Homo sapiens: one gene and its partners. The protein of the gene in region 2 purifies or fractionates together with the protein of the main gene of each other region. This does not show direct contact. Each region holds a gene or a part of one and is shown on either strand. Other genes may lie near its edges.

Region 1 (10,995 bases), on a different chromosome or scaffold from region 2:
CGAGACCCAGAGTTTCCACAGCATTCAGGCTCTGCAAAGTGCTCTGGTGGACGCTGCTATTGCAAATGAGCTTGGCTTTCTCCCGCAGTCGTGACTGTTCTGGAGATCAGTCTTGCTAAGGCTTTCATGGTCTAAGACACAAGCAGTACATCTGGATCCTGGGGCTTCATTTGCAAACAGGAAATGGAAGGCTCTTCAGAGTTCAGTGGCCACACGCTTCCAAGTTCCCCTTTAAAGCTGAGATTCAGCTGGGTGCGGTGGCTCACACCTGTAATCCCAGCACTTTGGGAGGCAGAGGTGGGCGAATCACGGGGTCAGGAGTTCGAGACCAGCCTGACCAACATGGCGAAACCCCCATCTCCACTAAAAATACAAAAAAATTAGCCGGGCATGATGAAGCGTGCCTGTAATCCCAGCTACTCAGCACGCTGAGGCAGGAGAATCTCTTGAACCCAGGAGGTGGAGGTTGCAGGGAGCCGAGATTGCGCCACTGAACTCCAGCCTGGGTGACAGAGCGAGACTCCTTCTCAAAAAAGGCAAAAAAAAAACCCTGAGACTCGCTCCTTGGCTTTCAGGAGACAACAGGCTGATGGCAGAGAGGGTCTTGCACAGAGAAGCAGCAGAATTTTTTTTTTTTTTGAGACGGAGTCTTGCTCTGTCACCCAGGCTACAGTGCAGTGGCACAATCTCTGCTCACTGCAACCTCCGCCTCCCAGGTTCAAGCAATTCTCATGCCTCAGCCTCCCAAGTAGCTGGGATTACAGGCATGCTCCACTGCGCCTGGCTGATTTTTGTACTTTTAGTAGAGACAGGGTTTCACCATGATGGCCAGGCTGGTCTTGAACTCCTGACCTTGTAATCTACCCATCTCGGCCCCCCAAAGTGCTGGGATTACAGGCGTGAGCCACTGCGCCTGGCCGAGAAGCAGCAGAATTGACACACACCTTGCACATGGAATTAATACAAAAGCACTGCCACATTACCCTTCGCTGTTCTCTTTCCAACTGACTGCGGAGTGTCAGATCCCTAATTGATTGGACGCTCTATCATCTCTTCCATCAAAGAAGACCTACCAAGTGCTTCCAGCAGTAGATTCTGACACTCCCTGCTAAAACTCTCGAGGCAAGGACTGGAGGAGGTTGGGAGAGCTGGTCCACTTACACCGGTGGTTCTCAACAGGGGCACTTTTGCCCCCCAGGGAGACACCTGGCAATGTCTGGAGACATTTCTGGCTGTCAGAACTGAGTGAAGGTCTGGTAGGTACACGCTACAGATCCTGCTAAACACCCCACAATGCACTGGGAAGCCCCCAACAGCAAAGAATTATGCCTTAAATGGGAAATAGTGTTGAGGTGGAAAAAATGACAATGGTCATCTTATAAAAGGAAATCTTAAGTAGGCTTTCTTTTTCTCAGAGGCGCTAGTAAGCTCAAGCATGAAGAGACTGCAGAGATAGAAGGGGCAGTGAGCCAGGCACAGTGGCTCACTCCTGTAATCCCAGCACTGTGGGAGGCCAAGGTGGGCACATCGCTTGAGGCCAGGAGATCGAGACCAACCCTGGGCAACATAGTGAGACCCTGTCGCTACAAAAAAAATAAATAAATTAGCTGGCCGTGGTGGTGCACGCCTGTAGTCCTAGCTACTTAGGAGGCTGAGACGGGAGGATCACTTGAGCCCAGGAGGTTGAGGCTGCAGTGAGATATGATGGCACCACTGCACTCCAGCCTGGGCAACAGAGTGAGAACCTGTCTTAAAAAAAAAAAAAAAAAAGGAGGCTGGGCACGGTGGCTCACGCCTGTAATCCTAGCACTTTGGGAAGCTGAAGCAGGCAGATCACTTGAGGTCAGGAGCTCAAGAACAGCCTGGCCAACATGAAGAAACCCCATCTCTACTAAAAATACAAAAATTAGCTAAGCATGGTGGTGCACACCTGTAATCCCAGCTACTCGGGAGGCTGAGGCAGGAGAATTGCTTGAACCTGGGAGGCGGAGGTTGCACTGAGCTGAGATTGCGCCACTGCACTCCAGCCTGGGTGACAGAGCCAGACTCCGTCTCCAAAAAAAAAAAAAAAAAAAAAAAGAGGGCCAGCACCTATCACCCAAGAAAAAAGGGACCAAAGCAAAGCCAGGAGTCCCAGCTGAGCTAATGATCCTATCAACAATTAAATGAAACACAGCCAACATAAACGTGGCTACTCACACACCATCTCGACCACTTTATTTTGTAGGTGGTACTGAGAGTGATCAGAGGCAGACGAGGACATGCTTAAATACAAGGGCAAGCCTGCCTGGTATGCTCGCTGGGAAAGCCTCAAGCCAAGACCTCAGCAACTGCTGAGGTGGTTATTTAGACTTCACACAAAATTCTGCGTTAGGAGGATACCTCCCTGACATCCACTCTTGATTTAAATCTTCCAAACAGATCAATTTGGGAGGCAGAGGCTGCTTGTGTAGGTGTTTCCATATCTATTTTGATTTGTGCTAGAAGCAATGAGCACGTCTAGAAAAAGAACAGATCTTAAGTGGCTTTCTAGCAATGATACAGGAGAGACACGTGGCCCAACCTGAGTAGCAAGACATACTCGGTGAAGGCTGAGATCACCCGAACCACTGTAGTGGCATACCTGGCTTGTCAGAGGCGACTGTATGTTTAACTTGCCATTCTTGGGAATGTCTATTCTATATCCGAGGGGAAGAAAAGCGTTGAATCCAACAATGAGGTCAGGGTGCTCGTGGAAGAGCTGCGAGACACGTCTGATGACTCCAGGAGTATCGATGCTAGAAGAAACAACGGAAGTGGGCAAAAGGGTCTTGGGAAATAAATGAAAAATATAATCTATTCCCCACTCCCTTGATACTGCCACATAAAAACCTTCTCAACAGACAACAAAGGAACCTAAAATGTGACCCACCAGGCGCAGTGGCTCATGCCTGTAATCCCAGCACTTTAGGAGGCCGAGGCAGGCAGATCACCTGAGGTCAAGAGTTCGAGACCAGACTGGTCAACATGGTGAAACCCTGTCTGTACTAAAAATACAAAAACGAACTTGGAGTGGTGGTGCGTGCCTGCAGTCCCAGCTACTCAGGAGGCAGAGGCACAAGAATCACTTGCACCCGGGAGGCGGAGGCTGCAGTGAGCCCAGATCACACCACTGCACTCCAGCCTGGGCGACAGCACGAGAATCCATCTCAAAAAAAAAAAAAAAAGTGCCCCCATGTGATAGCATCTGTACACCATGACCTATCTCCTGACTGGCTAGGCCTGAGCTCCCTGTTCCCTCCTGGTGAGAACCAGAGAATACTGACATCGCTCAGCTCCCCTAAAACACTCCAAGAATGGGTACTCGGTTCTGAAAATGTCAGGAGAGCCAACCGCAAGGCCTGGACTCCAAGAAATGGCAGGAGGCCAAAGTCCTCTAAGCAATGTGAAAACTTCCCTCATTTTGTATCAGATAGAGATGACTATGACACAGGTTTCCATCTGAGCAAACAATTGCAATGCATAAATACCAATGGTACTGCCAAGAATGGGAAAGGTGTAAGAAAAATAGGAGGGGAGAGATGGGGTCTCCCTTCTGGCTGCATTGCAGCCCAGCCCTTAGCACTGGGCTCCCGGAAGGAAACCAGGCCAGCCCCACCATGTTTCCTAAGAGGGGGCAGCAGTATGGTAAGCATGTGACTTCCAAGAATCTGAGTCAGAGGGTCTGAGTTCTAGTGACACCTCTGCCACTTAGGTGGGTCCCTTACCCACTCCAAACCTCAGTGAGTCTCCTATAAAAACAAGGGCATGATCCCAGGGTTTCCCATCTATCTGTAATCTTCCTTGATTCTGGGCCTGCAAAATCATCTCATGTGTTTTAAACGTTTTCTGTGTGCCAGCTCCCTTACTAAGCATTTTATGCGTCTTACTTCCAAGCAGGCCTGGGACCACAGTGAGCCCAGAGAAGCATCTTGAGGACAAGATTAAAGGGGAAGAGGGTGCCAAAAATTTCAATCATCAAGACAATAACATTTTACAGCGCTTGAAAATAAAAATCAAAATGGGTCCCACCAAATCTTTCATGAACAAAACTAATATAAAAATCAACATATTAAATCAAGGCAGGATTTGACTCTATGAGTGTGCACGGCCTCGCCCTCCCTGCCTCCCCCCAGATCCCTGTCCTGCTTCCAGGAATCCCCACAAAGCTCCACAAGGTGGGTACTACCCATTTCCATTTTTGTTACGAGAAGGAGCTAGGGCTCTGAGAGATTGGACAACCTGCGCAAGGTCACCCGGCTAAGGGGGCAGGCTGGAGAGGGGAGGTCTCACCCCGCTAGGCCCGATTCCGGCCCAGGGGGGTCCCCTGAGGTGGAGAGGGGCCCCGCTGGTACCTCTGGCTTTTGAACTCCTTCATGATCTCCAGGAAGCCGTTGTAGGTGGCAGGGTCGCTGCCAAAGCGGATCTTCACCTGGTCCAGATAGGTGAGGGCGTCTTCTACCTGCAGAGAGGGGGAGGGTCCCGGTGGGCCCTGGCCGCGGAACGAGGGGACGAGGGGCCGGGGTCCCTGAGGGGAAGGGGATGGGCTGGGCTTTCGGAGGGCCGAGGTGAGAGGTGAGGGGTGAGGGGTCCGGGGCAGTGCAGAGGGGAGGCCGAGGTGGGGCTGGGGCCGGGCGGGGCCTGGGTGAGGGGCGCCCGCCCGCGGGGTCCAGAAGATGGGTTCCCCGAGGGAGGGCGGGGACGCCACTCACGTGCACCGGCAGCTTCTCGTGGCCTGCGGAGCCCGAGCGACCCCAGCGGGCGCCGCTCAGCCCCCGGCCCGCGGGGCCGCCGGCACCGCTGCCACCGCTGCCACCGCCAGCGTGCGCCATGTCCGAAGTCGGAGCTGCGCCCCGCCCCGCCCCCGCCCGAGGTCCTGCCGCGCATGCGCAGCCTCCGCCTTTGGAGGCGGGGTTTGATGACGTTGAGGGGCGGTGCTCTTTGAGGGACTCTTCTGAAGACCTTCTCCTTAAGATTGGTATCATAATTAATGATTTATATAGCAGGGGTAGGCGAGCCAAGACCCGCCGCCTACTTTGTCCGGCCCCGCAAGCTCAGAATTATTTTTACATGTTTACATAGCCGGGGGAAAAATCCAAAGAAGAATAGTCTATGACCTGTGAAAAGTTTGTGAAATTCACATTTGAGGGTCCCTGAATAAAGTTTTATTAGCACACAGACACGCCCACGCGTTTACCTGGCTTCTCTGCCTGCTTTCGCCTTACAACAGAGTAGGTAGTTGCTAAAGATCCTACAGATCTGCAGACCCTGAAGTATTTACGATCTGGCCTTTTATGGAAAAAGTTTGTTGGCCCCTGCTTTATAGAGTTGACGGGACGATGAGGTATGAGCCCCCAGCGCCCTAATATAGGGCCTTGCGTGGTGAATTTTTGCTAAATGGCCTTTAAGTTAGTCCTACTCCTCCCATCTTCACTTCCCTATCCTTGGCCCCGTCACTTCCCATCTGGACCAGTTTAGGAGCCTCCTAACTCTGGTACTTTCTTTTTTTTTTTTTTTTTTTTTTTTTTTTTTTGAGACAGAGTCTCGCTCTGTCGCCCAGGCTGGAGTGCAGTGGCGCGATTTCCGCTCACTGCAAGCTCCGCCTCCCGAGTTCACACCATTCTCCTGCCTCAGCCTCCTGAGTAGCTGGGACTACAGGCGCCCGCCACTGCGCCCTGCTAATTTTTTGTACTTTTAGTGCCACCCCACCTGGCTCTAACTCTGGTACTTTCTCAGCCCTGATACTATCAAGAACTCTAGGCTGGGGATGGTGGCTCACGCCTGTAATCCCAGCACTTTGGGAGGCCGAGGCGGACGGATCACGAGGTCAGGAGATAGAGACCATCCTGGCTAACACGGTGCAACCCCGTCTCTACTAAAAATACAAAAAATTAGCCGGGCCTTGAAAAAAAGAAAAAGAAAATGAAAAAATTGGCTGGGCGCCGTGGCTCACGCCTGTAATCCCAGCACTTTGGGACGCCGAGGCGGGCAGATCACCTGAGGTCTGGAGTTGGAGATTAGCCTGACCAACATGGAGAAACCCCGTCTCTACTAAAAATACAAAATTAGCCGGGCTTTGTGGCGCATGCCTGTAATCCCAGCTACTCGGGAGGCTGAGGCAAGAGAATTGCTTGAACCCGGGAGGCGGAGGTTGCAGTGAGCCAAGATCACGCCATTGCACTCCAGCCTGGGCAACAAGAGCAAAAACTCTGTCTCAAAAAATTAATTAATTAATTAATTAAATAATAAAATAAAATGAAAAAATTAGCTGGGCGTGGTGGTGCACACGTTTAGTCCCAGCTACTCGGGAGGCTGAGGCAGGATTGCTCATGCCCAAGAGTTCAAGGCTGCAGTGAGCCATGATCTTGCCACTGCACACCCCAGCCTGGGAAGCATAGCAGTGCTTTTTTTTTTTTTTTTTTTTAAAGAGCATCTCATCTCTTAAAAAAAAAAAAACAGAAAAACAAAAAACTCCACTTTTTCCACCACTCCTTCCAAACCTCCAAGGTCTTCCTATTTCTAATGAGATGAAATCTAAGCACCTACATTGCAGGCTGTCAGAATTGGTCCTTAGGAACCTTTTCCTGCAGGATTTTCCAAGCAAACTGCCTGCCTCTGTGCAGAACTTCACACAATTGCCTGACCAACCTGGCTGCTTCCTGGTCCCAAGCATTGGCACTCACCATTTCCTTTGCCAGAAGTACTGTCATGCCTCTTTGTTATTCAGAAAACACCTATACATCCTTCTAAACGCAGCCCAAATATCCCTTTCCCTCAGGAAGTGTTCCCAGTCCCCTTCTATGTCTCCCCTCAGTCCCTTGTATTTCATATTTGTTTTGTGTCCGTCTCTAATACAAATCCCTGACACAGTCTCTCAGTCAGCATTCATCAAATAAGTGAACGTTCAATTAATGACCAAGTGCTTTCTCTTTTTATAAGTGAAGAGGTGCAGGAAAGTTGAGAGTAAATTGGCATCGAGTGCATCATTTACCAGGCACCTTGCTAAGTGTCAGGAATAGAATGGTAAAAAGGAACGCAAATTTGGCCGTTAAGAGCTTTTAGTCTCTCAGGATAGACAGGAATCTAGTAATCACACAAATGTAAAGTTTCACATGTAACAAATACTTTAAAGAGAAGGTATACATGTAACAGTTCCTAAATTTCTGTTGCTATGACTGTGTAACAAATGAGCCCTTGACAATCCCAGCACTTTGGGAGGCCAAGGTGGGGGCATGCATTGAGGCCAGGAGTTTGAGACCAGCCCAGGCAACATAGCAAGATCCCATCTGTACAAAAACATTAAAAAGAAAGAAAAATGGAGAGAAAAAATAAAAACATTGTAAGGTCTGGGCTTTCTGTAAAAGAAAATAAAAAGCAGCTCAAGACTTAGAAGCTTCAAATGACAACAACATTCACGGGGCAAGTGGCTCATGGCTGTAATCCCAGCACTTTGGGAGGCAGAGGTGGGTGGATCACATGAGGCCAGGAGTTCAAGACCAGCCTGGACAAGATGGTGAAATCCCATCTCTACTAAAAATACAATAATTAGCCAGGTGTGGTGGCACACACCTGTAATCCCAGCTACTTGGGAGGTTGAGGCATGAGTATCGCTTGAACCCAGAAGGTGGAGGTTGCAATGAGCTGAGATTGCGCCACTGCACTCCAGCCTGGGGAACAGAGCAAGAGCAAGACCCTGTCTTGAAAAAAAAAAAAAAAGAAAGAAAAGAGACATTCATTTTACTCTTCAATCTGCAATTTGGGCAGGCTTGGGAGGAATAACTCAACCTTGGCATCAGCTGGGTGGCTCAAAGTCTGGGGGCTGGAATCACCTGAATGTTTGCTCACACATATGTATGTCAGTTGCTACAGGCTACAGGCCGAGACCCTCGCTGGGGCCGTTGCTTGGAATACCTACATGTGGTCTCCTTGCAGCCTGAGCTTCTTCACAACTACCGTTCTAAGAACAAGTGAGCGTGTGAGCCAGGTGGGAATCATATCATCTTTTCTTTTTCTTCTTCCTCTTCCTCTTCTTCTTCCTCTTCTCCTTCTCCTTCTTCTTCTTCCGGAGATGGCAGGGGTTGGGGTGGGACTCAGGGTCTCAGGCTGGCCCAGGCTGGCCTCAAACTCCTGGACTCAAAGGATCCTCCCACGTCAATCTGTTGAGTAGCTGGGACTACAGGCATGCATCACTGCACCCAGCTCCCATATTACCTTTTCTCACCCAGACTCGGAAGTCACGCAGAATCATTTCCATTGCATTCTTTCCATACAGGCTGTTACAAAGTTTTTCCTAAATTCAAGAGGAGGGCAAATGGCCAAGAGTATCATGTGGGACAGGAAATATGTTGTGGCTATTTTTGGAAAATACCACCTGTTACCTAGGGAAACCTAACCCAGTCTTGCAGGAGATGAGGGAGGCTTCCCAGAGGAGGTGGCATTCTAGCTGAGATCTGAAGAATGCGTAGGCATTCATCATGAGAAAAATCACGAACAGCTGTGATTTTTGAGGTGGGAGACAGCATGGTACATTTCAAGAGTTTTTTTTTTTTTAAGACGAGTTTCCCAGGCTGCAGAGAGGGAGGGGAAGAAAGAGAGTACAAGATAATCCCGGAGCAGCCAGAGGAGCGGAACACACAGCACCTTATGCACTGAGTTCAGGCTTTAGCATTCACGCTGGTGGAAACCATCCAAGGGCTTTGAGCGGAGGAGCTGCAAGTTCAGGTTTGCATTTGAAAGTGATCACTCTGGCTGCTCTGCAGGAAAGTGATTGGAGCGGAGCCAGGGAGGGTGGAGGGAGGCTGTTTCATCATTTAGGCAAAGGACGATGGTGGCTTAGACCAGGATGGGAGCAGTGGAAGTAGAGAGCGGTGGGTGGAAGGGAGTGGTATTTAGAAAGTAAAGCATGGAAGATTTGTGGCTCCCAGCCAGGAAGAGCAGCGAAGGCAGACTGAACACTCTGTGGCCACCAGATGTCTGGACAGTCCGTTTCTTACCAAAGCCTCCCAGTGTTACAGGAAATGGGTCCCGATCCAGACCCCCCAGAGAGGGTTTTTGGATTTCACGCAAGAAAGAATTCAGGGAGAGTCTGTAAAGTGAAAGCAAGTTTATAAGGAAAATAAAGGAACAAAGAATGGCTACTCCACAGACAGAGCAGCCCCGAGGGCCGCTTATTCCCCATTTTTATGATTTATTTCTTGATGATATGCTAAACAAGGGGTGGATTATTCATGCCTCCTCTTTTTAGACCATAGAGGGTAACTTCCTGACGTTGCCATGGCATTTCTAAACTGTCTTGGCGCTGGTGGGAGTGTAGCAGTGAGGACCACCAGAGGTCATTTTGATTTGGGTAGATTTTGGCCGGCTTCTTTACTGCAACCTGTTTTATCAGCAAGGTCTTTATGACCCGTATGTTGTGCTGACCTCCTATCTCATCCTGTGACTAAGAATGCTTTAACCATCTGGGAATGCAGTGCAGTAGGTCTTAGTCTTATTTTACCCAGCCCCTATTCAAGTCGGGGTTCCTCTGGTTCAAACACCTCTGACACTGTTACGGGAAAGGGGTCCCAATCCAGACCCCAAGAGAGGGTTCTTGGATCTCACGCAAGAAAGAATTCAGGGCCAGTCCATACAGTAAACTGAAAGTAAGTTTATTAGGAAAGTAAAGGACTAAAGAATGGCTACTCCATAGACAGAGCAGCCCCCAGGGCTGCTGGTTGCCCTTTTTCTTAGACAGAGTCTCGTTCTGTCGCCCAGGCTGGAGTGCAGTGGCGCCATCGTGGCTCACTGCAAGCTCCGCCTCCCAGGTTCATGCCATTCTCCTGCCTCAGCCTCCCGAGTAGCTGGGACTACAGGCGCCTGCCACCACACCTGGCTAATTTTTTTTGTATTTTTAGTAGAGATGGGGTTTCACCATGTTAGCCAGGATGGTCTTGATCTCCTGACCTCGTGATCCGCCCACCTTGGCCTCCCAAAATGCTGGGATTACAGGTGTGAGCCACAGCGCCTGGCCGCCCATTTTAATGGTTATTTCCTTTTGAGACGAAGTCTTACTCTGTCGCCCAGGCTAGAGTGCAGTGGCGCGATTGCAGCTCACTGCAACCTCTGCCTTCCAGGTTCAAGCGATTCTCCTACCTCAGCCTCCCAAGTAGCTGGGATTACAGGTGCGTGCCACCACGCCTGGCTAATTTTTGTATTTTTAGTATTAGAGACGGGGGTCTTATCATGTTGGCCAGGCTGGTCTCAAACTCCTGACCTCAAATGATCTATCCACCAAAGCCTCCCAAAGTATTGGGATTACAGGCATGAGCCACCGCGCCTGGCCAGTTATTTCTTGATGATACGCTAATCAAGGGGTGGATTATTTATGCCTCCCCTTTTTAGACCATATAGGGTAACTTCCTGATGTTGCCATGGCATTTGTAAACTGTCATGGCACCGGTAGGAGTACAGCAGTGAGGACAACCAGAGGCCACTCTTGTCTCCATCTTGGTTTTGGCTGGCTTCTTTACTGCAGGCTATTTTATCAGCTAGGTTTTTTTTGTTTGTTTGTTTTTGTTTGTTTTAGACGAAGTTTCACTCTTGTTATTCAGGCTGGAGTGCAATGGCGCAATCTTGGCTCACTGTAACCTCCACCTCCCAGTTCAAGTGATTCTCCTGCCTCAGCCTCCCGAATAGCTGAGATTACAGGTGCGCACCACCAGGCCCGGCTAATTTTGCATTTTTAGTAGAGACGAGGTTTCTCCATGTTGGTCAGGCTGGTTTCAAACTCCCGACCTCAGGTGATCCACCCACCTCAGCCTCCCAAAGTGCTGGGATTACAGGCATGAGCCACCGCGCCAGGCCAGTAAGGTCTTTATGACCCGTATCTTGTGCTGACCTCCTAACTCATCCTGTGACTTAGAATGACCTAACCATCTGGGAATGCAGCCCAGTAGGTCTCAGCCTTATTTTACCCAGCCCCTATTCAAGATGTTGTTG
Region 2 (10,014 bases):
ATGAGTTAAAGCCTATGATAGGATTAAACACTTTTTTTTGTTTACTACTTTATTTCTTAATGAATTATCTTCTAGTCAGTAGAAGAGCCACCTGGGTTTGAAAACATTTTGTGGTTGATTTTGATTATAACATTTGTCATAAGCGAGTCTGACTACATTAAAAACCTTATAAACCTGCAGGACATTCTACAAAATTTAATTAATTCACCAGTTGAATCTAAACCTCCTCTACTCAATATTAACTAGAACTTACACAAAATCTGATATAACCGATGTTCAAAACAGTAACTACAAGGTACAAAATAATCTGAATCTTAAGCACTTCTTGTTACAAAAACATTAATACAGATGATAGATTTTAGTGCTAAACTTGATAAATGATCTGTGTGTGTACATTTTCAAAGTTAATTACTAGAATTACTGAAATTTCTATCCTTTAACTTTTCCTTACTTTTCAAGTATATGTTTTTATATTACAAAAAGGCAAAACAGAGAGTACCTTCAAAATGTCTTACTGACAGTTGTATTTACCAGGAGTTAGTGGTAACATTTAACTGGACATATTAATTCCTTTTTTAAAAAACATAACTAGAGATTTGGGCTGGATAGAGGTATGAATTCTAATCCCAATTTTAACACCTTTTGAATGACTGAACAGATAACACACTTCCACATATTACAGATTCCTTATCTTTAATGGCAAGGATAACAACTATCAATGAGTAAACTATGGTAGGAATGGTAGGAAGAGGAAATATTTCTATTGCTCAAAAAACAGAAACAAAAAAATCCCCTTGAGTTGGTGCTGTTTACTATTCAACATTAAAGGGGAAGCTGAGAGCAGTGGCTCATGCCTGTAATCCCAACACTTTGGGAGGCTAAGGCGGTAAGACTGCTTGAGCCCAGGAATTCAGGGCTGCAGGAAGCTACAATAGTGCTACTGAACAAAAGCCTGGGCAACAGAGCAAGATCCTGTCTCTAAAACGAACAAACAAACAAGAAATAAACCATTAGAGGGTAAGATATTACCAGATTTTTTAAAAACTGAGTCATACTATATCCATAATCTCTTTCAAAATTGGTTAATCATGTTTAACAGAAGGGAAATTGATACCTGTATTATGCAAGAAGAAGTTAATATCACTGACTCTAATGATAACTTTAGATCACTAATGATCATAACTCCTATTTGATCCAAACCAGCAATGTGGTATCCTCTTGTTTTATTTTTAATAATCTGACATAATTTCTGGTATCTCATGAAACCAAAAAAGGTAACACACGTCATAAACACTCTGAATAATTTTCTGACTATACCCATGTAATACTTTGCTAGGAACTAGAAATCAAAAAAAATTCCAGAAAAGAGCAATTACACCTAATAGGTAGGTAGTAGGTACTCACTGAAAGAAAAATACAGGATGTTCATGACCCAAGAGGTTTTACATTTCATTGTACTGTTTTTTTTAAACCAACTGGTAACTCAGGTCATTATACTCTGATCATTCTTTATGTGATCCACTTCCTTCAATATCTAAACGTTCTTTAGAGCAGTGCTATCTTGAGTTTTCTGAATGGAACAGTGCCTTTCAAAATCTTTTTATGAATTTCCTTCATGCACGTAAGTGCAAAAATCTTTAATATTTTGAATTTTTCTCCCAAATAAATCTGTTTTTCCCTGTTTTTATAAGTGTGAACTACCTGCATCAGAATCACTGACATGCTTATTAAAACATTCTTGTACTGCCATCCCCAGGCCTACTAATTGGAGAGGCTTGGGGTCCTCAAATCCTCATTTTTCTAAGCAAGCACCAAGTGATTCTTATGTCCACTAATGCTTGATACCTCAATTATATGCAATTAAGATTCTAAAGCTCTTTGAGAACAAGAATTATACAATTTCTTCTGTAATTATCCAACACAGAAAATCACCATAGAGAATGCTTAGCAGTGACTAGTTTTTAGAAACACTAAAACGCTACTCATGTAGAGGACAAAGGTTGCTATTCATAATTGAATAACTACTCTGGGATAAAGAAACCCAAAATGAGAAAACCTGAAAAGTAATCCTTCTATAGAGCATGCGCATTTTATCAGTAAAGCTTCAAAGTGAGTACAACCTTTATAGTGAGTTAAAATATAAGGTGCAATATAAATATCTGAATATGCATCATATATTTTCCGGTGATTCTACACACACCTGTAATTTTTATCAGGTCTTAGTTTGATAAAGCAAAGATGTATTTACTTAATCTCTAAGAGTTAACATTAAGCTTAGTTTTTATTTGTTTTGAGACGCAGTTTTGCTCTTGTTGCCCAGGCTGGAGTGCAATGGCACAATCTAGGCTTACTGCAACCTCCGCCTCCCAGATTCAAGCGATTCTCCTGCCTCAGCCTACTGAGTAGCTGGGATTACAGACGCCCACCACCACACCCAGCTAATTTTTGTATTTTTAGTAGAGACAAGGTTTCGCCATGTTGGCCAGGCTGGTCTTGAACTCTTGACCTCAGGTGATCCGCCCACCTCGCCCCCCTAAAGTGCTGGGATTACAGGTTAGAGCCACTGCATCTGGCCACTTAGTTTTTAAAATTTAACAACTATCAGTAGCCACAACTAAGCTTCCTAAAAATATGTAGTTCAGAATAATAGCACCACTGTGAACCAACACTAAATTCTAGTAAGTCCAAGAAGCATCAAAGAGGTTTGAAAAAAGTACTTACACACAGCAAATTGGTACTACTAATAGAAGGTACAGGGTAAGACAGAGAAATTTTTAACCAAAGCATAGTTCTTCACAACACTGAGCATCAACTGGATGTGAATGATTTTTACCCAAAGCAACAAATCAAGTAAACTAAAAGTAAACCTAAATGGTCATTCTTTTATTTCTACAAGAAAACCACAAAATAATTATACCACTTAAACCAAGAAATAAGTATAAAAACCAACAATGCTATAGATTGGATGTTATCCACAGGATTGTGCAGTTTGAAAGTACTGAGAGGAGATTTGGAAATGTTACTTAATGCTATTCTCATCAACATAATGACAGCAACTATTTAAGTACTACTTTAAGGTTTTAACTTACAAGTATTATGACACTTGTTGCTTCTCACTATTAATACAATAAAGTTATCTAAAGCCAGTATAAGCTTATGCATGGAATGTTAAGAATGCATTCATGCATTCATATTAGGAGCATCTATATTTTTCTTAAAAGCTGTTTTCTTTTTGAGACCAAATCTCACTCTGTCGCCCAGGCTGGAGTGCAGTGGCATGATCTGGGCTCATTGCAACCTCCGCCTCCCAGGTTCAAGCGATTCTCCTGCCTCAGCCTCCAGAGTAGCTGGGATTACAGGCATGCACCACTAATACCAGGCTAATTTGTGTATTTTCAGTAGAGACGGGGTTTCACCATGTTGGCCAGGCTGGTCTCGAACTTCTGACCTCAAGTGATCCACCCGCCTCAGCTTTCCAAAATGCTAGGATTACAGGCATGAGCCAACATGCCCGACCTTGAAAGCTGTTAATATGAGCACCCACACTGTATCAAAAATCAAAAACTAAGTTAACAATCACCTATTCTTGAATCTACCATGGTCAGGATTTTTTAAATCTGTAAATTGTCTGGCAACATCTACATTACCCTTGTATAAAATATGTAGCAATACAGTAACGATCGCAACTATGCAATTTTAATTGTAATTATAGAAAAAGTGATCACAATCATGTGATCTAACTTTCTTGAAAAGAAACATCAAAGTAACCTAAAATAGAAGTACATTTTTGGATGAAATAGACAAAAGTGGCCAACTTACTGTAAGAGATAATTATTTTTGTTACCTACAGGGCATTCTTAGAATTTTAGTCAGCTATATCCAGTAAACTGACAGGAAATAATATATATTTCTCCACCAACACAATGATTCAGTGTATCCACAAAACACAGATACATGCAACCTCCAAATCAAATCTGTGTTAAATTACTTAATTACTTACCCACGGTATACCAACTAGCATCTGTCAACTTGCTGATAATAGCTTCCTGAAAAGATCCATCAGATGTCCTTGTTTCAACAATAGCTCCAACCTAAAATGTGAAATCCCAATTTCCTTACCAAATTTAAACAAATAAACCAAATCACTCCCACCAACTATATAATCTAGCTAAGAAAAATAAACACCATACTTATGATAATTCTATCTTACACTGTCTGAGATCTTTATCATTCATAGTACTTATCTATTTATTATGCAATTTGAGCTCCAAAACACTTTGACAAAAGTTAGGTAGCTATTATTACCCCTACTTTACACACTGAAAATTGCCGTTCAGAAAGAGAAAATAATATGCAGAGTCCAGCATGACAGCCCAGTCTCTTAAATCTTACTTTAGAGCTTTTCCACTATATCACATTGCCTTCAAGAAAATTAAATCGAAGAACTGTAAAATTATAAGACAACCAAAATAGCATCCATTTTCTTTCACAGAAATAGTGAATATTGGATTCAGCATTTGTATTTAAGGTACCTTTTAGATAAAGGTTCACCTGGAGAGATAGGGATGGACCAGTTGACCTTCTTTCAGTTTCCAGACCTTTGTATATCAGATATTAACCAAAGTGGTACTCTGATATAACAGATTTATTACATAAACAAATGGCCAGAAATGCATGGAAAACATAATCTAGGTATTCATTAAATTGAATTAGGAAGTGAACATAGTTTACTTGGTAAATTAGAACAACCAAAGATTGATGGTTATGATACTCAACTTAGAAGGCTAAACATCACCTCAGATACAGCAACAATGTGAAAAACAAAGCCAGGTATCCAGTTCAAGAATTCAAAACAGAAAGGTAGGTGAAAAACTTAACATGTTTATATATATTAAATTACCCTTCTAGAAGATGTTTAGTATCTAAAACAGAATACAGCCATTGCAATATCACAATTTATACTAATTATATTTAAACCCTTCATATGTATTGTTTTCTGATTAACGTTCTCATAAAATGTTAAGTCTATGTAGAAATGTAAATTCAGTAAATATGGTATAAATCTATGATTATTTCAGATTTTAAACCGTACAACATACATACTCTTAAAGGACCCTTTACTTGGTCATCTTGTACCAATTGTGTGGTATTATCCTGTTTCAGGAGTACCTGAAAAACATTTTGCACAATAATTTGCATATTACTTTTAAAACAAATACATTTATAGTAACACTATAACAATAATGTCTTTAATTTATGCTTTCTTAGCACCATGTGGTGACCCCTGCTAATGTAATACTTATTACATTCTCTTATTAACTGTGAGCTCCTTGAGGGCTGAGTCTTCCCTTCATTGCTATATCCCCAACAGTTAGCAAGTGTCAATGCATATTATCAGCACTTAATAACTGTTTACTAAATGAACTATATAATAATCTTTAATGATTACTGTAAAAAAAAACTGCCTTTATTGCTTTTTATCAAGTCACAAAAGGTTCTGATTGCCACCAAGTACACAAAGAAAAACAACAGTATCAAACTGTATTGCCTATATGAAAGGTAAACAAATTAAAACCAGAACTCTGATCCTTTATAAAGTGAAGCTAAGCAATAATCGTAATATGCACTGATACAAACAAGTGCTCCCTTCTACTACACATCTAAAGACATAAAGTAACCATCCGTAACAGATGGCTGGTTACTATGGTCCAAATAATAGATGGTCCAAATAAATTCAAAATCTAGGTAATGTATGGTAAGACCTCCTAAAACAATCATTGTATTAATTTTAAGTAAATAAGAGCCACAATACCAAATTTGAATTGTTAAAGAATCCCAAATAAATATAGAGTAATCAAATCCTATATAGCTGACATGATAAAAACACTGTATGAAACAAAAAGAAATGAATGTCAATTGACATCCTATCCTAATACTTGAAGGTTCATCAAGAAAACTGAAACATAAATTTTATAATAATCATAGATACATCTATTTAACCTACAAATCACACTCCTCTAGTCAATGTTTCTCAAACTTTTTTTTTTTTTTAGGCAGGGTCTCAACCTTCGCTTCCCCAGCTCAAGCAATTCTCGTGCCTCAGCCTCCCAAGTAGCTGGGATTACAGGTTTGCACCACCATGTCTGGCTAATTTTTTGTATTTTTACTAGAGACAGGGTTTCAACATTTTGGCCAGGTGGGTCTCAAACTTCTAGCCTCAAGTTATCTGCCCACTCTGGCTTCCCAAAGTGCTGGGATTAATGACCCACCGTGCCCAACCTGATTCTTAAACTTTTAACATGCATCAGAAATATTTAAAGGGCTTATTAAAACACAATTACTGGATCTTACCCCCAGAGTTTCTGATGAAGTAGATCTGGGGTGGGGAAAATTTGCATTTGGAACAAGTTCCCAAGTAAGGCTGATGCTGCTGGTCTGGAGGGACCCTTTAGGAATCACTGCTCTAGTTCACTGATTCATTCAACAAATTTTGAGGGTCCACTATGTATCAGGCACTACTCTATGTGTTGGGCATAGAACAAGTCAGACGTTTCCTCCTTTTATGGTGCTTAATTCTGGTAGGAAAACATCAGATATATAAGTGAATAAAGCAAACTGCAATACAGCATGATCCAATACCAATGACAATAATTTTATGACTGGCACAGTAAAAAAAATCTGGAAGACCACATCAAATCTCTTTGGAGTCGTATCAAGGAGGACTTTCACAGTGTTCTATACCGCAGCAGGATGACTGTAGTTAACAATGCTATATCACATTGTTTCAAATGGCTAAGAGGAGGATACTGAATATTCCCAACACAAAGAAATGAAAAATGTTTGAGATGATAGATATGCAAATTATCTTGATTTAATCACCATACATTATATGTATCAAAACATGACTATGTAGCCCATGAATATGTAAAATTATTATTCATCAACTTAAATAAAATTTTTTAAGGAGGACTTCATTAACTATATGATATACCTCTATAATGTTAAAAATGTTTATAATAAGCATAGGAGGTATCTAAGTATAAAGTAACGAAGACTATTAAAAATATATTCATATAAGAAAATTACTGGCAGGAACCACCAAAAAAAAAAGTTATTTCAGAGTAAAAGCATCTTAAAAAAAAATTTTTTTTTTGAGACAGGGTCTTGCCCTGTCATCCGGCCTGGAGTGCAGTGGCACAATCACAGCTCACTGCAGCCTTGACCTCCCAGGCTCAAGCAATTCTCCCACCTCTGCCTCCAGAGTAGCTGGGACCACAGGTGCCTGCCACCACACCTGGCTAATACTTTTTATCTTTTTTTCTGGACAGACAAGATCTCACTATGTTGCCCAGGCTGGTCTTGAATTCCTTGGCTCAAGCAATCCCCCCATTCAGGCTTCCCAAGTGCTGGGACTGCAGGTGTGAGCCACTTCACACAGCCAAAAATATACATATATATTTTTAGTCTCCCTCTGTCACCCAGGCTGGAGTGCAGTGGTGTGATTTCGGCTCACTGCAATCTCCACCTCCTGGGTTCAAGCGATTCTCCTGCCTCAGCCTCCCGAGTAGCTGGGACTACAGGTGTGCACCACCATGCCAGGTTAATTTTTTTATTTTTTGGAGATGGAGTCTAGCTCTGTTACCCAGGCTGGAGTGCAACGGCATGATCTTGGCTCACTGCAACCTCCGCCTCCCGGGTTCAAGCAATTCTCCTGCCTCAGCCTCCTGAGCAGCTGGGATTACAGGTGCCTGCCACCACACCCAGCTAATTTTTGTATTTTTAGTAGAGACAGGATTTCACCATGTTGGTCAGGCTGGTCTCGAACTCCTGACCTCAGGTGATCCACCCACCTCAGCCTCCCAAAGTGCTGGGATTACAGGCGTGAGTCACCGCGCCGGGTCTAATTTTTGCAATTTTAGTAGAGACAGGGTTTCGCCACGTTGGCCAGGCTGCTCTTGAACTCCTGGCCTCAAGTGATCTGCCCACTTCGGCCTCCCAAAGTGCTTGGATTACAGGCATGAGACACTACGCCCAGTCACAAAATAAACTTTTTAAATGCTTTTTTACACTGTCTTGAAAACATAATTCCTGTTGTATTTGTATTGTCCTAAACACTAAAATTGTCTCTACCTGAACATTAAATGAGGGGAGAAAATAGATTACAGTCCAAGTATGCTACCACAAATAGTTAAGAGCCAAATGACAGGAAATATCATGAGCATGGTATTTTGATGGTAGCATTTTGGAATAATTTCTCCTTTTGAGTTTTTTATTTCTTTATTTTTGATGTGCTTTTCCTTTAAGTTTGGTATATAAAGGGTTTTCATATAATGACTCAATAAAATGCTGATTTGCAGTCTCTCTCTCCCCAAATTTCTTCAATCTAGAGTTAATAAAACTATTGCATAAAAACAAATATTACCTTAACTTTCACCAGCCTTTTCACAGTCTTAATCTTTGCCTCACAGAAGGCACCTCGGTACTTGGCACTGACATCGGTTCCCACTGTCAGGTAGGCAGGCTCATCTGCCGCCTGGTGAAAGGAACATAAAACTGTGAATGTCATTACTATGCCTCCCTACTCCAACCTCAAGTCTCATTAAAAGGTTGTGTTTGAAGCATTAAGAATATTAAAATGACTTGCTTATTAATATCATTGAAAATTTGAAAAATACCCTAAATACTTGATTAGCAACCTTTCATTTTATAGACTGATGTCCTGATATGATAAAATGTTTTAAAGTTGTAATTCAAAATTATCAGTGATTAATAATGTTTTGTCTCGATACAAAATTTTTCAAAAATTCTACTATTATATAAGCAGAAAGATAAGAAAAAAACAGAAAAAATATTTCATATTACACATATCATAAAACTAAGTTATTCATTTATAGCTTCCTGAAATTTTTCAAATTAAAAGAAATATTGCTACTAATATTAACACTAACAATACATAATTGTTTATTGACATAGCCACATAAAGGTAACATCTTTTCATAAGGAAAGTATCATTTGGAAAATTCATTTGCTAAAAGCTGCACTTGAAAGGTTTTAAGTCTGAATTCAGCCGATGAATGCAGATATGAACTGATGGCTCCAGACTTGTAGGTATACCTAGTTTACCACACTAATCTTCTTAGTATAAAAAAATAAGCGTTACTAAGAAACATCTACTTTCAGCAAATGGACACGACCAGAATGATACATAGAAAGATGTAAGAAATGTCACTCTACCACTCATTTTAATTTTTACAGTAACAGGATGATTGCTATCTCAATCTGTCATTTTACCTTTTTTTTTTTTTTCCGGAAGTTAAAGTGTATCCATACAAGTTCAACTTAACATTGTTAAGTGCAAAGTTAACAGTGTACACTTTGGAGATACGTTTTGAAGTAGAAAATGATTTTTTGTTTTCTAATAAGTTTTCCCAAGTAATATTAAAGAAGGTTAAATATGTCATTTACTTCGAGAAAATAGAAAACCACGAGAAAGTTTGGGAAAATGCTATATTTCAGAGCTTAATATGCTGAAACAGTAAATAAGACAGGAATTGGGTACCTTTTAAAGTAAGTGCATTTACAAAAAATACAAATTGAATAGGAATGCTTTTGGCAAACAAAAATCTGACCTGAAACATTCAATGGCCACAGCATTCAAGAACGCTATATGAGATCCTTTCCCTTTAACCATCCACATACTGATATTTGCAGTCATCCTCAGTAGAATATGTATCTTTTTAGTATATGTTTTAAAATACTTATTGGAAAGATTTAACTAAAACTATTATTATACTTCAACTTCAAATATTTTAGCCACATAAGTTCATTTTACACACAGAAGAAATGATACCTTCATTACTTAATCCACGTATTCTTTCTTTTAGAAAATCGCATTGGCACACGGGAAGAAAAAAAATTTACAAAAAATCCCCCAAAGAACCAAAGCAGGACAAAAGCTTTACTTCTGCAAAGGTTGCTGCCAACACAGGAAGTGTTTAAAAATACTATCCGAAT
Region 3 (10,014 bases), on a different chromosome or scaffold from region 2:
TGGTGTAACAGTAAGCACCGAGATTTCAAATTCCCAGATGAGAAAAAAAAAATTAATCAGGAGGAAATTTATTTAGTAAAAATTCAAAGCTAAAGAAATGTGAGAAGGAAGCCAAACCCAAAAAACTGTAAAAAATACAATCTTCTCTCCAGAATTAGGTTAAAAAATACAGTCAACCCCATTCTAAACCCCATATTTCTTAGAAAAGTCACCCAGTCCTGAACACAGGGTCTTATACACAAATACATGTAGCTTGATTTGCAGATCAGCCTCTGGGATCGACCTTACACTGGCCCCAATTAGAAGTTCAAAAACAAAAATTAAGTTAGGTAGTCAGACATCTATAAATACTAGTATCCGCATGAATGAAAACACCCTGGCTTTGGTATGGCTACAGAAATCCATCTGGAAATTATTCAAAAGGACGTGGTTCAGGGAAAAGGGGGTAGGCAGGGCATGGGGGGAGGGGAACACACAAAACCCCCAAGCAGAGGTAAAATGAATATTGGAACACACCCGCAGCAAACACTGTACATAGACTTGAGGCAGATGCCTCTAACACAACACATATACAGGTTCTTGATCAAAATGGTCTGGACCAACCTTTTTCAAAGTAATCACCTGCAGGAAAGAGTTTAAACTTGGAAATTCATCTGGTGCCCTGGGGTCTAGTGAGAAACAATGACCTTTTGGAATAATGGCCACCCAGGCTAGAAGCTAGCCTCCTTCTCGTCTAGAAACTTCAAAGTCTGTCTTCCCCTTTAGTAAGGCTTCTGCCCACCACAGAAGTACCCCCATCTACTAACAGGAAGGCTGCTTCTGTTCCTGGTCACCACTGAGGCCTGTCAGGCTTCAACTGCTGATTTTTCACCTCTGGGGTGACAAAAGAAAATATTAAGTCCTCTGGGATTAGAAATGTAATTTACTATGCTGATTCTCAAAATGGACTTCTCACCTGCCCCCATTTTCACTAGGCCCAATTAAGAGTTGTGAGGACGCCGAGGAGAAGGCAATGGCGGAGTCGAGACTATGACTAAGGGCGCCCTCAATACCCTCAAAAGTCAGAGAGGAGAGAAGGCAAAAGTGCCCATACCCTGGTCTTCAAATAAATAGTTGCTTCACAAAAGCAGAGGTCCCACAGAGAAGGCCAGAAAAAGAGGCAATTTGTTCCTGCTTCAATGCGGAACCCCAGTGGTTATCAATACAATCCTCAACTATAAAAACAAACTTTGGTATACTGTTTAGGAGGACAAAACACATGATCATTGAAAAACTCCACCTTCAATGGAAAAATACATGAAATATATCTAATTTCCATCGCAGGGCACTACATGAAAACCAACAGCTGCACAATATGTGATGTGACACACACATCGTATGTGTAACAGTTCAAGCGAGGGAAGTCCTGCCTCACAGTCAAGGCTAACAAACAAGAACAGGTGAAGCCTGTGTTTACCATGGGCTGGGTTCACTGTAGTAAACATCATAGCAGTCGGGGATTGGAGGGCAGAGAAGAAATACAGAACCCCAGGCAACTTTTGATAACAGCGTCATTTATCCTGTTTTCTAAATAAGACTCCAACACCAGAAAAAAAAAAAAAAAAGAGGAAAAAACGGATTGTAAGTTAAAACAAAAATCTATCTGTATAAGTCTTTACTTGTACAAGTCTGTACAAGTCAGTAAGGTTTGGTCTCTGCAGAGCCAGAACTTCAGAGAAGGTGATTTAATTGTCATCACAGTCCCCCCAACTTGCTTGGGGGTATGTACATCAAGAGACAACATGAAGAGAATCACTTGAGACCAAAAGAATTACTTACAAAGAAAGATTTCCTAGGATGTGTAAGTTCTACTGATTGCTCATAGAGACGCTAACAGTTGCTCTAACCCCAAATTTTTTGAACATCTCAAGATGGCAACATGAGTATAGAAAACCCCAACACTCATCACCCAATGAATCATTTCTCCAATCATGGGAGTGAGGGAAGGATGTAGGAAAGGCTGTTTCATCAGGACTCATTAGGGAGGGTGTCAGTCCAGAGGCAGCCACAGCAGAGCTTTCCTTGTCTTCAACCTGGGCCAAATGAAGCTGTGAGCGCTCAGGGCCTGACAACAAAGTTCTCCACAGGTTTGGAATGGCCAATGTGCAATAATGGCATCAGCCACAAGAGTGAAACTTGAATCGTGCATGAGGGTCTATAGATCACTGATTATTGCACTATCAATCTCACCTCCCACCCGTAAAAGATTACCCAGATAATCAGCCTGTGGCACATACTTACTACTACCTACTTGGGAACAAGGGAGAGGAAGGAATTACAAATGAAAACTTCTGAAATGACCACTGCTTATTCCAGCTTAAGCTAGAACAAATGTTTGAATAAATCACCTGCATTAAATAACATTTAAAATATGGTACCTTCAGCACATTATAAATATGAAATGTCCCCTCCCCCAACCCCATTTACTTCAGTGCACATAGTCTTCCAGGCAAGCTTTTCCATCGCTCAGCGAGCGGAATGGATGGTGTGCACAGATGTTACACAAAGCATTTATTTCTCTGAGAAGGCCGAGAGCCACGAGAATTCATCATCTCCTGCTAGGACCTCTGCCCCAAGCTTCTGGGCAAATAGTGAATTGGACGCGACAGGGAAAGTAGCTACGTGATCCACTAATCAGATTCAAAACATGAAAATGCACTGGAGAGTGTATCCCTTCCTGCTCTTCTCCATGGTAGAGAGACTTAAAGATAATCAATAAAAATAGCTGTCCCTTCAAACTCAGAGGAGGTTTTCAAAAACAAGTATAAGCAAAAAATAAAGAAATAAAAGGAAAGTAAATCAAACCCCCCAATACGCCTGAAAGTAAAACAGTCTCATGGTGACTGATGTCTGGAAGAAGTTGAGGCAGAAAAGACTGACAAAGTTGGAAGCATCCGGCCACAAAAGTGCCCTAAAGAATTCACTGCAGTGCTCTCCATTTCCAAGGCTGAGTAGCTATTCCCAGTAAGTTAACATTTTTCTATTAAGGAGAAAACGAAACAAAACAAAAATAAAACCCACTCCAGAAAAAGGGTCAAGAGAAGAGCACTGTAGAAAGTCAAGCAGCTGAGCGCCGGCGGATCACGAAGAGCCCGCGCTGAAGCTGGCCCAGGTAGATCCTCATCTTGGTGCTGTCACTTGTCTTCCTCACCCAGATCTGCAGGGGAGAGGAAAGGGAACAAGATGAAAAGTTAAATACAGAAGAGCAAATCTCCTACACCATCAAAATATCTGCACGAGTGAGATGCAAGCAGAAGGCTGGTAGCCTCTTGCTGGAATAAACTGTCTCAACTTGTGAGGGCTTCATAAGCACCCCTGACCTCGGGCCATCTAAAGGCATGCCGCTGGGAACAGGCATCAGCCTTGAACTCGTTTCTCAGCCATCTCTCTCACACCTGTGATTACGAAAATGGAAAGCACAGCAATCTTGGGTTCCATTTCTGCCTTGATCTTAAAGATGCTTTTAAATTTGGTTTGATTACTGTGTTATCAACACTCAAGAGACATCTATTCATAAACACAAACTTTCAAATTTGGAAGTATTTTCCTTGCTCCAAGGGACTTCCATATTATACAAACTTTCAATACTTTGGTTTCCTGGCAATGAAGGCTAATGGTTGTGCAGAAAAACAGGGAAAAAATATCAACAATAGAAAAATGCCCACTAATGAGCTAAGGCCCAATTAGGATCATGAGAAGGTTGAAGCACTTCCGAGAGTCCTTCCCTCCTCACCATATCCCCCTCTCACAGACAGTATTAGATTACAGTGCATTTTACAGGGCAGATGCATTCTTCCATTGAATTGAGAATGAACTCTTGCAACAGGGGACTGCCAGGGCTGACAAAGTGCACTCAATAAGGGGCATCCTAAAGCCATGGGTGAGAAGGGGAGCTGCTGCCAGTCACCTGACCCCCTGAGCCAGGGTTACTGAGCTCTGTGTGCCAGACACCATGCTGATCAGGCTGAGCTTTTTCACCCGCAAGACAACCCTATGAAATAACTACTATCATTGGCCCCATTTTAAAGAAGAGGAAACCAAAGCTCAGCAAGGCTGAGTCACTTATCACGACGTGAATTCTGGTGTCTGACATCAAAGCCCCTGGCTCTTCTCTACTAAAGCAGTCTCTGGCTTCTTCTTGCCTGTTTTTCTGTAACATGCAATTAAATAGAGCCAAAAGCACAGTTTTTTGAAAGGTCTGCATCTCACCCAAATATACAAGTTTACAGATTTATCTCCTCCTTCCTGGACTCAGTTTTCAGGTTTTAAAAAAGCTTATTCTGTTTCATCTCAATTTCTTTAATGTGATTATTCAGCAGTATCTCTACTGCTTTAAAGTCAAATACACTGGCTTAAAAATTTAAAAAGTTAAAGACCTCACATGAAGCTAAGCCTCCAAGGGACCTTGCAGAATCATTTTAAATGAAAAACTGATCCCAAGAAAAGCTAAGTCAGGGAGTCATCCACACACTCAGAGCTACCCACCAAACCTGCTTGGAGTCAAGCTATGCTAAAGCCAAGTAGCTCCAGTGTCACCTAGAATTTGATCTGAAAAATGAGCTGGAACACTTTCAAGAAATGAGAACGGTTTCCCCATTGCCAGAGTTGCATGTCTTCAGTGCACTGAAGCTTCTCCCCTCCAGAAGACGTGTTTCAGTGTCACCATTTGTCAGATCTCACTGACACTCTATTATGTCAAGACGCGACAATATTCGGCAGAGAGAGGGGAAAAACAATCTAACTTGCATTTATATTTTTCTGAAAAATCTTGAGGTATCATAGAGGAGAATAATGCACTGGTTCTGAAGTTAGGGTCAGGTACTAGAAGGCCACATGTGCTTGTGGAACAACCCAGACAGCCAGGTGCAAATGATTACCATGAAATCGTGACACCTCTTGGCTGAGGACCAGGTCTCTCTATTAGCTTCCCTGTTCTGGTTCTGACTTGGCTTGAGGGGACTCACACGGATCCTCAGCCCAGAGAAGAATGGCATTCATTTATCTAGAAGGCTCTCCCTAACTTCTAAGTAAACAATCATTTTGCAAACTAGTCACATTTCAGGGCATTTTCAATTCAGGAAGCTGGAAGAATAGAAGAGGCTTAAGTTACTTCATAATCCAGTTTCATTACATTTACTGTGCACTGGCACGAATAAGTTACAGAGGGCAGACACATAGAAATCAATTTCTTTGCAGACATTTGTGGACTGATAAAAGATCAAGCCAATCCAGCTATTAAAGTTTTTAACTTTAACTAACAACATAAGTTACACATTGCTTATATACTCCTCATGAAAGACCACTTGGAGAACTCAGAGGGCAGTCATATCATCCTCAGGTATAACCCTCTGAGCTGACTTTAAAACCAGACCCCATCCATCCTAAAGGAGTGTCTCGAGGAGACCAAAAACCAAGGGCATAACCCTGGCAACTTGTTTTGAAGCACAATAGGACATCTCAGCTAGGAAAGACGGCAGGCAAGTGGCGTGTGGGTCGTTTCAGGCCAGCACTCACTTAGTGAGCACTTACTGGGTGCTAGACCCTGTGCCAGGTGCCTCATTCAATCCTCACAGCAAGAAACAAATCTACTGGTATGTGTGAAAGTTCTAGAGAAACAAAACCAAGATGGAGTATGCTCCACAGTCAAGCTCCATTCTCAGTAGATGGTTACCTTAAAAAGAAGCAGGAGTTGGCCAGGTGTGGTGGCTCACGCCTGTAATCCCAGCACTTTGGGAGGCCGAGCTGGGTAGACCACGGGGTCAGGAGTTCAAGACCAGCCTGACCAACGTGGTGAAACCCCATCTCTACTTAAAAAAAAATACAAAAATTAGCCGGGCGTGGTGGTGGGTGCCTGTAATCCCAGCTACTCAGGAGGCTGAGGCAGGAGAATCACTTGAACCTGGGAGGTGGAAGTTGCAGTGAGCCAAGATAGCACAACTGTACTCCAGCCTGGGCAACAGAGTGAGACTCTGTCTCAAAAAAAATAAAAATAAAAAAAAAGAAGCAGGAGTTGAATGTACAGACACCACACAGACTTGCTTTTTGTTCTTTCCTGGAATCTAGCTCCGTGGTTCCCAAATCAGTAGCTGTACCGGGAGTTCACAAATACCCCATGGAATAGACAAATCCGCATATGTTGTAGTCAAGCGAATGTAAGGACTTTTCAAGGATGATTTTGACAATGTGCAATTTCTGCCTGACTTTAGAATCTAACCCACATAGAAGACAGTACTCCACTGTACTTCCTTGGTGGCACTTTCATTTCAGGTTTGCCCTACCAACACTTCGCAGTACACATTTTGCTTCCCTAAAGGTGAGGGAGTGTGGTTCCCACCTCATTGGCTCCTACAGAACTGATCACGCAGCTCAGTTTCTGGTTGTCCTTTGACTCCAGATAGATGGCCTGGCTCTTGTGGTACCTGACAAAAACAAGGCACACATTTTTAAAAAGGGAGGGACAGAGACAGGAAGTAAAAACCAAACAAAACAAAAACACCATCACAACAAAAATTATAATTAAAGAAGTCTTAATAATTCACATTTGAGGAATAGCCTGGATTTCCCATTTAGCTTAATTTAAAGGCTTCCATCCTGAGGCCAGGCGCGGTGGCTCAAGCCTGTAATCCCAGCACTTTGGGAGGCCGAGGCAGGCGGATCACAAGGTCAGGAGATCAAGACCATCCTGGCTAACACGGTAAAACCCCGTCTCTACTAAAAATACAAAAAAAGTAGCCGGGCATGGTGGCAGGTGCCTATAGTCCCAGCTACTTGGGAGGCTGAGGCAGGAGAATGGTGTGAACCCGGGAGGCGGAGCTTGCAGTGAGCCGAGATGGCGCCACTGCACTCCAGCCTGGGCGACAGAGCAAGACTCCATCTCAAAAAATAAATAAATAAATAAATAAATAAATAAAATAAATAAATAAATAAATAAATAAAGGCTTCCATCCTTAGGTTAGAAGACCACCTAATCTTCTTTGGGATCTAAAGCTTATATTCCTTGGTCCCTCTACAGAAGGGAAAAGGCTGAGGAAAGTGTTGGAAAACTATGTATTTTTCCCTTTTTTTGGACTATATGACCCAGTTCAAAAAGTAAATTAAAAATTGTTAAATAAAAACTCTGTTTCCCCTTTCTGACCCCACACCAGAACACTGAAGAAGGTTGGACAGACAAAATATACAGGCATAAGCCACCGTTATTTATTTTCTATTTGTCCAAGTCAGTCACCAACAAGAAGGAAGGCTGACTTTAACCCTTTAGTCAGTCATTCAAAAATACTCATTAAGCACTTACTGTGTACCACGGACTATGCTGGAGGCTGGGGACAAACAGTGAGAAAGGCCACAAGTTCTCCACTATCACAGAGATTCAAATACACTGGGGATAAGGAACATTAAATAACCACACCTGGTAACAGCTAATCAGGCAAAGTTCCAAGTGCCATGACGTATACCAAAGGGTATCTAATTTGGCCTGGACAGTTGGGAAAGCTGCTTTGAATACAGTAGATAAGACAGACACTCCCCTTTCAACTCCTGCATCTACTCTCAACCTGTAGTGTAGGGCCACTTCTTATTTCTACAAGTTCAGAGACAAGGCCAAGGATGAAAGTGAAGTTGCTGGGGGCCAAAGCCCAAATGGGACAAAAGCAGCTGCCACAGGATGAAGGAGCCCCTGCTGGATTACAAGAGTTGGAAGTATCAGCGGAGCTGCAGCTAGCAACCCTGGCCTGGGCCAGCCCCACGTCGATTAATAACATAAACTTTGGTTCATTTTGGCTGCAAAGATCTGGCTAACCAGACCCATAAACTCGTGTAAATTTAGTAAAACACATCTCCCAGCAAAGCATGATGGCTTATTCTGTTTTGCTGGTATAAGGAAATAACCTATTGCCAAGACATGGCAAGTAAAGGATGCACTTCACTCCCATAATGAGCTTTTTCCAGTCTAGGGTCTCAATTCTCTTTAACCTGCTACTTATGAACTGAAAACTCAGGTTTCCAAGTCAATGTACTTTCTGAAAATACTGTTAAAAGAAACAGAATTTTAGGCCGGGCGTGGTGGCTCACGCCTGTAATCCCAGCACTTTGGGAGGCCAAGGTGGGCAGATCACAAGGTCAGGAGATCGAGACCAGCCTGGCCAACATGGTGAAACCCCATCTCTACTAAAAACACAAAAATTAGCCGGGAGTGGTGGCAGGCTCCTGTAATCCCAGCTACTCGGGAGGCTGAGGCAGGAGAATTGCTTGACCCCGGAGGCGGAGCTTGCAGCAAGCCAAGATCATGCCACTGCACTCCAGCCTGAGCAACAGAGCGAGACTCTATCTTAAAAAAAAAAAAAAAAGAATTTTAAATTCAATTAGAACAGCGAGAATGGTTTAAATGCAAGTTTTAAAGTTGCTTTTGGCCCTTTATTAGTTGGTAAACTGGCAGGGGACCTTCATTATGCTAAATATGTATTATCACAAGGGCCGAACTGTACAATGCATAAGAAAAGGCTAAGTTCATACTAACACTAACACTTCCCCTTGTTTCTCTCTCACATCTGAGCCAGCTCTCCTATGTAAACAGTCATGTCTTGAGTAATGGTTAAAATAAAAATACAGAGGGAGAATACTCACAGTTGTTCTAAAGGGACTGTAAGTTATTAAAGAGATAAAGACACAAAACAAAATGCAACTACCCTCAAGTCATTCTGATACAACTTTCTAAACACTTTAATAAAGAAAGGTCATGGATGTGGTGTAGAATATTACGAGTGTGGAAACATGCTCCATATACTGGTAGGTAAAAAAAAAAAAACCAAAAAAAACTATGTCAACTATGTTCCTGTGTTTATGATAAAACATACACATGTTACAGCTGGGTGCAGTGGCTCACGCCTGTAATCCCAGCACTGCGGGAGGCCGAGGTGGGTGGATCACTTGAGGTCAGGAGTTCAAGACCAGCCCGACCAACATGGTGAAACCCCCATCTCTACTAAAATTACAAAAATTAGCCAGCATGGTGGTGTGCGCTTGTAATCCCAGGTACTCGGGAGGCTGAAGCACAAGAATTGCTTGAACCCAGGAGGCAGGGACTGCAGTGGGCTGAGATCATGCCACTGCACTCCAGCCTGGCTGGAAGAACGAGACTCTGTCTCAAAAAAAAAAAAAAAACTGGCCAGGTATGGTGGCTCATGCTTGTAATCCTAGCACTTTGGGAGGCCAAGGTGGGTGGATTGCCTGAGCTCAGGGGTTCGAGACCAGCCTGGGCAACAAGGTGAAACCCCGTCTCTACTAAAATACAAAAAATTGGCCAGGCGTAGTGGCTTACGCCTGTAATCCCAGCACTTTGGGAGGCCGAGGCGGGTATATCACGAGGTCAGGAGATAGAGGCCATCCTGGCGAACATGGTGAAACCCCGTCTGTACTAAAAATACAAAAATTAGCTGGGCGTGGTGGCGGGTGCCTGTAGTCCCAGCTACTTGGGAGGCTGAGGGAGAGAACAGCTTGAACTCGGGAGGCGGAGGTTGCAGTGAGCTGAGATGGCGCCACTGCACTCCAGCCTGGGTGACAGTGCGAGACTCTGTCTCAAAAAATATAAATAAATAAATAAAATACAAAAAATTAGCCAGGCATATTGGCGTGTGCCTGTAGTCCCAGCTACTCAGGAGGCTGAGGTAGGAGAATCGCTTGAACCTGGGAGGCGGAGTCTGCAGTGAGCCAAGATTGCGCCACTGCACTCCAGCCTGGGCGACAGAGCGAGACTCTGTCTCAAAAAAAAAAAAAAAACCAAAAATAACACATATACATGTTACATGTGTATCCATGTATCATATCCTCACAAAGGTCTTTTAAAGAAAACAGCTGACTCTGGAAGGCTATTCCAACAATTCTCATGAGATGCATTGTATTTTCCTTCAGTGGTACTTAGAACCCAAACCCAAGAAATTCAACTGACTTAAAAGCGAACACCCAGAGTAAACAATGCAAGCT

The links.
Region 1: the proteins of ARID4A (region 2) and SIN3B purify together in Homo sapiens (affinity purification with western blotting; 2 studies listed by BioGRID and IntAct, with this or other methods). This does not show direct contact.
Region 3: the proteins of ARID4A (region 2) and SUDS3 purify together in Homo sapiens (affinity purification with mass spectrometry; 2 studies listed by BioGRID and IntAct, with this or other methods). This does not show direct contact.

Annotation. Positions count from the first base shown.
Region 1 is NC_000019.10:16,823,276-16,834,270, reverse strand, and holds the start of SIN3B (paired amphipathic helix protein Sin3b), read right to left. Parts: upstream 4,874-10,995; 5' UTR 4,851-4,873; coding exon 4,731-4,850; intron 4,481-4,730; coding exon 4,374-4,480; intron 2,778-4,373; coding exon 2,624-2,777; intron 1-2,623.
Region 2 is NC_000014.9:58,300,099-58,310,112, reverse strand, and holds part of ARID4A (AT-rich interactive domain-containing protein 4A), read right to left. Parts: intron 8,534-10,014; coding exon 8,423-8,533; intron 5,170-8,422; coding exon 5,104-5,169; intron 4,092-5,103; coding exon 4,001-4,091; intron 1-4,000.
Region 3 is NC_000012.12:118,407,517-118,417,530, reverse strand, and holds part of SUDS3 (sin3 histone deacetylase corepressor complex component SDS3), read right to left. Parts: intron 6,459-10,014; coding exon 6,374-6,458; intron 3,197-6,373; coding exon 3,098-3,196; 3' UTR 1-3,097.